Linked DNA regions of Homo sapiens: region 2 is linked to region 1. The links come from fine-mapping of genetic effects on gene expression. Tissue or cell type: testis. Region 1 holds a variant in brackets; the other region holds the start of a gene. All regions are shown on one strand. Distances are between the middles of the regions. Region 1 overlaps ODAD2 (outer dynein arm docking complex subunit 2). Region 2 holds the start of ODAD2 (outer dynein arm docking complex subunit 2).

What was found.
Region 2: ODAD2 starts here. The variant in region 1 is fine-mapped to the expression of ODAD2 in testis (GTEx, PIP above 0.99).

The regions. Positions count from the first base shown.
Region 1 is chr10:27,966,825-27,971,215 of GRCh38, reverse strand. ODAD2 (outer dynein arm docking complex subunit 2) reads left to right here. Exons shown (of 20, transcript NM_018076.5): 8 at 1-108; 9 at 2,198-2,293. Among named protein-coding and RNA genes, the nearest start is that of ODAD2, 30 kb to the left of the region's middle. The variant G/A (reference allele first, on the strand shown) is at 2,293.
Region 2 is chr10:27,997,337-28,001,727 of GRCh38, reverse strand. ODAD2 (outer dynein arm docking complex subunit 2) reads left to right here and starts at 2,649. Exons shown (of 20, transcript NM_018076.5): 1 at 2,649-2,734.

The DNA.
Region 1 (4,391 bases):
TTCAGACAAAAGGTCACTGGAGAAGAACCAAATTAATTTTTGGAGGAATCAAATGACCAAGAGATGGGAACCAAGCTTAAACTGGAAGACCACTGTTAATTACAAAGGGTATGTAGATATTTGCATTTGTTTTCAGATGCAGCATTAGTAACCATACTCACCTAATTTTTCACAGAACTTTATTTTATTTTATTTTGTTTGTTTGTTTATTTATTTATTTATTTATTTATTTATTTATTTATTTAAGATGGAGTCTTGCTCTGTTGCCCAGGCAGGAGTGCAGTGGTGCCATCTCAGCTCACTGCAACTTCTGCCTCCTGAGTTCAAGTGATTCTCCTGCCTCAGCCTCCTGAGTAGCTGGGATTACAGGCACATGCCACCACGCCTGGCTAACTTTTTATTTTTTGTAATTTTAGTAGAGACAGGGTTATACCATGTTGGCCAGACTGGTCTCAAACTCCTGACCTCAAGTGATCTGCCCACCTCAGCCTCCCAAAATGCTGGGATTACAGGCATGAGTCACTGCGTCTGGCCAGAACTTTATTTTATAATAGAAAAATATTGAATATATATTTACATGTCCCTCCAAGGCGCAGGTTGATTCCTTTCTGCTCCTCTTTGTATTCTAAGCAGAAAGATTTGATAGAGTTTATGTGTGGAGCACTGTGAAGGGAAGAGAAGAACACAATTCACTTTTATATAGTTGGTGAGTCAGGACAAGTAATATGCAGAAAAGATGATAAAACACTTGGAGCAGTCACAGGGGAAATGTAAAAATCATGCTAGAGACCTGGTTAAGTAAGCACTGGGAGAATGTGGAATGATGAAAATTATATGGAGCTAATCAGCGAAACTGTCATAGAGATAATGTCTAACAGAACTTTAATACCATGAAAAGGCTAGAGTCTCAAAAATATGAATGGACCTATATAAAGTGGACACTGGCTTGATGAATGTATGAAATATACAAAACAAGTGCCATTTAGGACCTTCTATAAACAGGCGTCAAAGCAAAAATTGAGGGCCAATGCTACGTAAATGCTGGGGCAGTCAGAAATACCTAGAGATTTATTTATTTATTTATTTATTTATTTATTTATTTATTTATTTATTTTTTGAGACAGAATCTCGCTGTCACCCAGGCTGCAGTGGCACAAACTTGGCTCACTGCAACCTCTGCCTCCCAGGTTCAAGCGATTCTCTTGCTTCAGCCTCCCGAGTAGCTGGGATTACAGGTGTGTGACACCACGGCTGGCTAATTTTTGTATTTTTAGTAGAGATGGCGTTTTGCCATGTTGGCCAGGCTAGTCTCAAACTCCTGAGCTCAAGTAATCCGCCCACTTCTGCCTCCCAAAGTGCTGGGATTACAGGTGTGAGCCACTGCACCCAGCCCACTTTTTAAAGCTTAACAAATAGTTTACAAGTTGCAGCCTGTAGGTGATATTCTATGTTGTCCCATTTTTGGGTTAAGAACTGATTCCTGGTTGATCACACAGGGACCTTCTCCTGCAGGGATTCTGGGAATCACAGGGTCATTGTGTTTTGGAAGCAAACCCAGAGAGCTGTTTGAAGAACGGAGTCATGTGGAGAGGGGAGACACTGGCTCCTCTGATTGATTCTCATCAATTTTGGGGTGTTTGACTTTTGTGGCTCTGTTTGAAAGAGTCAATGTGAAAATGAAAAATGCATGGGCAACTTTTTTAACTGGCAAGTGAGTTTTAAAATACTGCTTTTTCCATATTCTTACTCTTTCAAGCATGAGATTCCTTAGCAGGTATTCAAGGGAGAACACAGAATGCCAAGGACTATGCAAAGCCTGCGAATACCTGGAAAACCAGGTGCAGGCCCTGTTGCAACGTTGGGTGGGGAAGATAAGAAAATAGAAAACTATAATTGGCGGCGATACATACCTAGAGTAGAAGGCATCGGGTGCAGGATTCACACCAACAGTGGCAGCCTGTGAAGACCTGTTCCTAGGTGCTGGACAGAAAGTTTCTTCAATATGTAAAACATAGGGCTGTGCTGAAAGAGTGAAAGAGACAGCTCCGAGTGTCAGAATGAGGCTGGAACTCTTGTCAGGAACACGCATCATTTGAGCACATGGAAATAACGGAGTATATATCTACATTGCCATCTTTTATTTTTTATTAATTAGCATAAAGCAATAAAGCTAATATATTTGTATATTTTTTTAAAGCAAAGGCTCAGCAAAAGAAATCCAAGAGGACAAACACACAGGAAAACTTGAAAAACCAAGACCATCTGTTTCACACGGAAGAGCACAATTACTTC[G/A]GTATGTTTCTGGTCAGCAAGACGAGTTCCCTAAAGCCACCCTCACGCAGTGGGCTACTGAGCATGCAAATTAATGGCATCCTTCCTATTAGGGTCCCCAGATGTTTACACTGACGGTTACTAGGAATGTTAGTAAAAGTGGTCACACTGGATTTCTTTAAATACTTTTTCAAGATATTCTTCTAATGCAGTTACCCAAAATACAGTGATTTACTAGTATTAGTTGACTGTGGGAAAAGAAATGTATTTAATGCAAAGAGCAGTGACCTAAGTTTAGGAACACTGGGCTCTTAACTGATGTCTTGCCTCTGAACAATCATGTCCTGGCAAAGTTATGTATCTGTCTGAGCCTCCCTTTGCTGATCACAAAAGACTGCCGATTTTGAAGTGGTCTATGTTATTGCTAACGAAAACAATTAAAAATTGAATATGAGGCCAACTAGTAAATTTTTACTTGATTTTCAGTTTGACAAAAAAAGTGACATGTCTGGAAGATAAGGGTCAGCCACTTTTATTAGCTTCAGAGTGGTGGATATTAGCGCTTTTGTTACAATCTCACAGTTCCTTGAGGCTGCGTTCACTGATTTTTTCAGTTATTTTTTTCTCTACGTTGTTCAGATTGAGCCAATTCTGTTGTTCTATCTTCAAGTTCATTTATTTTTTCTTCTGTCCTATTCTTCTGCTAATTTCATTCAGTGAGTTTTTAATTTCACTTATAATTTTTAGTTCCAAAATTTCCATTTGGTTTTTCTTTTCTATCTTCTCTTTCTTTGCTGAGACTTTCTATTTTTTTCATTTGTTTCAAGCATGTTCATATAGCTTGTTGAAATATTGTTATGATGGTGCCTTTCATATCTTTGTCAGATAATTCATACTTCTTCATCACCTTGATATTGGCATTTTAAAATTGTCTTTTCTCATTTAAGATGAGATCTTCCCCATTCTTGGTATGACAAATAATTTTCAGTTGAAATGTAGACATTTTGGTTATTATGAGACACTGGATCTTATTTAAATTATTTATTTATTTATTTGAGACAGAGTCTTGTCTGTCACCCAGGCTGGAGTGCAGTGGTACAATCTTGGCTCAGTGCAACCTCCGCCTCCCGAGTTCAGGCAGTTCTTCTGCCTCAGCCTCCTGAGTAGATGCAATTACAGGCGTGCGCTACCACACTCAGCTAATTTTTTTATTTTTAGTAGATACGGGGTTTTGCCATGTTGGCCAGGCTGGTCTTGAACTCCTGACCTCAAGTGATCTGCCTGCCTCGGCCTCCCAAAGTGCTGGGATTACAGATGTGAGCCACTGCACCTGGCCTAAATCTTTTATTTTAGAAGGCCTTCTCTGCCACCATATTGGCAGGATGAGGTATGTGTTGCTTCTCCAGGCTGGTGAGGAATTGAAATAGCAGGTTTTCCCATAGGCCTTCACTGATGCCTGGGGGGTCAGGCAAGGGAGTCCTCATTATTTCTGGAGGGTAGTGGGAGTTCATGCTCCACCTATGCCTCTGCTGATACCAGCCGGACAGTGTGACGGGGGAGTCCTTCGTTACTTTGTCAGTGGGCTCTACTGATATCACAGTTCGGATAAGTGACTTCATTTTTGCCACGATGTAGTGAGCATCTGACTCCCTGTCAGGCCTTCTCTGAGGCCACCCCAGCAGGTGGGTTGCAGCGCTTTCTTACAGTCTGATAAAGGTAGAGCCCTAGGCTCTTCACTTGGCCTTTGCTATAAGAGGTAGACTTGGGCCACGCTGTTATGTGTGGTCTTGATTGAGATAGATCATTTGTTGTCTAAACATTTTCTGTCTTATTAGGCTTTCCTTTTCTGGCCCTTTGAATTAGACAGAGCAGGACTTTCTTAGGTCCTTTTTTTGCCTGCACCTCCTGGAGTTTCTGCTTTGCCGGCTTTTCCAGTACCCAGTCTAGGAAGAATGAGACAAAAAGAAAACCCAGGGAATGCACCGCTGTGTTGAGCCACAGGTCTTCAGATCCCTAGGTAGTGCTCTTCTTTTTCTCTGCCTTTCAGAGTCACCTTATGTTTGTTTTATATACAATATCCAGATTTTTAGTTGTGCTTGGTGGGAGAAATAGGGAAAAGT
Region 2 (4,391 bases), 31 kb before region 1:
ACTAGACGGTCTCATCTGGGGGGGATGAGTGACAGGGACAGATCATCAGGCATTAGATTCCCATTAGGAGCTTGTAACCTAGATCCTTCGAATGCACAGTTCACAATAGGGTTCATGCTTCTATGAGAACCTAATGCCACTGCTGATCTGACAGAAGGTGTGGCGTGTGGGTGGGGTCCCTGCTGTAGATGACGTAATGTTGCGGAGGTGGACCAAAAACTATCAAGTTTTTCCCAGGAGCCTGTGGCAGATTTTCTCTAAAGTTTCAGTGGACAGCGCTGCACCATGTGCTTGCACTCTAGCCATGGGCAGGGCTGGTAAAGGCCTCTGGTACAGCAAACCCCGGGTGTGCCCTCAGTGATGAAGGCTCTTTCCAAGATCACGGCTACTTAGAATCCTCAGGCTGGTTCTATTAACCCTAAGAAAATGTGGGCCTTGCCTTTCTGGTGCTTGGTGAAGAGTGTCAGGAAGCAAGGCATCTTTGACTAGGCGATTCATGAATTTAGCTCCTTCTACGTGCCAGTCATCCTTCTAGATCTTAGGAGTACAGACTTGAAGGAGGCAGAAAAGCTCCCTATTTTCATAAAGCTTACCTTGTAGGGGTAGCAGATGGGCAACAAGGCAAAGACAAGTTATGGCCAGGCACAGTGGTTCATGGCTGTAATCCCAGTGCTTTCGGAGGCCATGGCTGGAGGATCACTTGAGCCCAGGAATCAGAGGCTGCAGTGAGCTATGCTTATGATTATGTCACTGCACTCTGCACTCCAGCCTGGGTGACAGAATGAGACCTCGTCTCAAAAAAAAAAAAAAGAAAAAAAAAAAACAAGTCATGATAAATCCTTCAGGGAGTGACTGGGCCCAGGTAGTGTTTCATCACGACAAGGAAAAATTGGAAAGAGGCGACTGGGACTTCTTCAGATTTAAATATTATTAAGTTATTTTTGCTTGGAAAATATCCGGTAAAATAAATTCACATTTTGGCATCAGATTAAGCAACTTGGCATGAATTTGGCAAACAACGACATAGTTGCTCAGATCTTGGTGGGTTCTGGCTTTTTCCAGCTTTGCAAACCAAGGTGAAATGTCCTGAACTTGGAAGATCTCTGGCTGGCATCCACATTGGACCCAGTAATGCTCCCTTATGTCATACAGCTGATTAAAATGTGCAGAGGAACTAAAGTACCCACAGAAGCTTCCTTGCTTCCAGGACTGGGACTACTCCAGGATCCTTCCGAAGGATGCCCTCTGCTCCTCACCAGGTTGTGACCTGCATTACCGCCACAGGTGTGATGCTGTTGTCTCAGACTGTAATCCACCCATTTTTAAAAGGGCTTCTCTGTATACCTATTAGCATAAGCCCCTTTCTCACTGGTTGCAAGTCTAAGCTTCTCTGCAGGTAGTATCTCCTTTAGGTGAAACTATTCCATTCCTAACAACTTTCGCACTTTCAAAAAGAGAAGAAAAGAACCCAAAACAGGCCAGGCATGGTGGCTCATGCCTGTAATCCTAGCACTTTGGGAGGCCGAGGTGGGTGGATCACTTGAGGTCAGGAGTTCAAGACCCACCTGGCCAACATGGTGAAACTTCGTCTCTACTAAAAGTACAAAAATTAGCCGGGCATGGCGGCGCATTCTTGTAATCCCAGCTACTCAGGAAGCTGAGGGGGGAGGATCTCTTGAACCCGGGAGGCAGAGGTTGCGGTGAGCCGAGATGGGAGGCAGAGGTTGCGGTGAGCCGAGATCGTGCCACTGCACTCCAGCCTGGGTGATAGAGCCAGACTTCGTCCCCCACCCTCCAAAAAACCCAAAACAAAGGACAAATATCTATACCTCATATCCCTACGTGTTTGCAGAAAGGTTCTGCTTTGAGCTGAATCCGTATAATATTATGACAGGTGATATCCTAACATCATTCCACATTTGCCTCTTTGGCATCCGGAAAAGAATCCAGTTTTAATTCCTAAACACCCCATCATCCTAAGTGCTCCGGCATTGGTCCTTAAACACCGTGTCCCCCCACCCCAAGATAGTGCATTCTTCCCCATCCCCCCCCACCTCAATATTCCCACTCCTTTATCCCTCACTGGTGTTCCAGTTGGGGCTCTTGCTGGTAGGGTGTCTAGAGGTGGGGTCAAAACCATCTTAATGGACAAAGGTAAAGGCCATTTAAAAAAAGAGATGGGGGACATGTTTTCATTTCACTCCGATCCTCTGCCCTATTGAAGAGCGCTTTCTGCTTTCCCGGTGAGTATCAGAGTATTCTACCATATTTGTTTTTTTGGAGAGAAACATGTAAGCCTCAAATATCCTAGGAGAAGCCCTATGCTATTTGGGGGTACTCAGTGAAGATTTCAGGTACATACAACGCACTTGTCTGGAAGCCTATGGAAAAATGTAAAAAGGGGTTTCTAAGGAATATTTTCTGCTTCCTTTCTGCTCCATTTTAAGTTTTCTGCTAACTTGCCGCCGACCCCGCAACTGCTCACGACCTCTGTCAAAGTCAACCTTTCCCACCGCGTGGAGTGAGTTAGGGTGCACACTCGGGAGTTGCATAAAAGTGTTTGAGAAAGGGAGATGCAAAGTTGAATAAAAGTGTTTCCCGGGAGGGGCCGAGCGGAAAGCAGCAGGTGGCCGGGGCGGGTGGAACCCAGCGCGGGCGCAGAGCGTCTCTGGCGCGGGCATACGGTGCAACGGGTCCGCGGGAATCTTGGATGCGCGGAGGTCCCGAGACCAGGGTAACGGACTGGGCTGCGGTCGCGGCCGGGTGAGGCTGGGAGCGGAAGGCGGCGGCGGCGGCGCCCGGGGGAGGGCACGGGCCCTGTAGGCCTCCCACAAGGGCGCCGGCGTGCGCGGCCGCAGGGCGCGCAGTGTTGACCCGCGTCCTAGCAACAGGCGGGCGCCGACTGCGGGGGGCAGGGTGCTGCAGGTGAGTGCGGCTGGGGGTCTCCACGCTCACCCCCGCAGGGGTTCTGCAGCCGCCCGCGTGGATCGGGAAACAGAGGCGGCTCTCTGGCCCCGCCGCTGCCGCTCTCGCCTGCTCCCCTTTCCCTCCCGGGGACCAAGACCCGCCCCCTTCCCTTCTCTCTCCCAGCCCCATCTCACTCCTTCCTCCCCGCGAGACCCTGCCTCGGCCCTAGGTTGGGGACCGTCTGCTCCTCAGTCCCTGCGCCCCTCTCTGCACTACCTCGGCCCCATCACCTCCCGGATCCGCTCTCCACTTCTCCCGCCGCTTCCCTGCCTCTCCTTCCCCCAGCCCGTCTTTCTCCTCCGCCCTTTGCAGCTCTGCCTCCCGCTCCCAGCGTGGTTTTCGCCGTCCCTTCCCTCCTCGTCCCCTTACCGAATCCATTCCTGGAAACTTAGGGTCTCAGCTCTGACGCCCCCTTCTTGTAACGAGTCTGGTGGGGGCCGTCATCCCACACTAGGCTTAGCTTTGGTTTTACTTAGGGCCCTGTTCATGTCATGTCTAAAAGTTCGATTTTCTGTCGGTCTTACTGAGTAACTTCTGCATTCTCAGAAAGCAGTGTATGCGCGGACTCCCCGTGGATGTTACCAACCACATTTCATAGATCTCAGAGCTGATGGCTGCCTTTCCGTAGCCCCCTAAAGAATTCGGTTGTGCTTCTGTTTAAGTGTTAACGATGTGATTACCGAATGGGTTTCATTTCACTAATGATGCTGGAAGCTTGAAATTGACCTTTAGAAAGAAAAACAATCTGTGGTATCTATTGGATAAAGAGAAAAATGAGTGCTAAGTGATTCCCAGTTTATGTAAACATCCCAGTTTATGTAAACACGTAACCAAAACTTTTTTCCTTTTAATCTTTAAACTTACTTTCTTTACTTCAAAGGTGTGTGCTGTGTATTTACATGGATTCATTTTAACTATGGTTCTTAAGCCAAAAGAGCTTGGCAATGGGCAGAAACCGGGGAGCAACTGGTCTTGATTTTAAAATCTTAGTTTTGAGTTATGCCGACCATTTTTGAACACCATTTATTTATTTATTTATTTTCTAATAACATTGATCTTGCCTTCTGGATTGTCATAGGCCACCCTGAGGTTTTCTTAAACTCACCAACCTTCTTGAATAAAACTTGTGCATTGCTACGGTTCACTAGACTTGGAAATACAATTTGAATAGATTCAAATGTTACATTTCTGTCAAAATTTATCTTGACGAAAATAACGATTTTGCATTTCTTAATTCTGTGTTAAGGGTCCTTCAAGAAGTTACTATATGGTATGTTGACTACCATAGCGTTACATAATCTATTTAATTTCGCATTTTTTCTTTAAAAATGTGCAAGAAGCAATCTTTATAAGATTACCAAAACAAATGTTATACTTAAGATTAAAGACAGACAGAACTTTCACCTAAGCCTTTCTGTATAAGA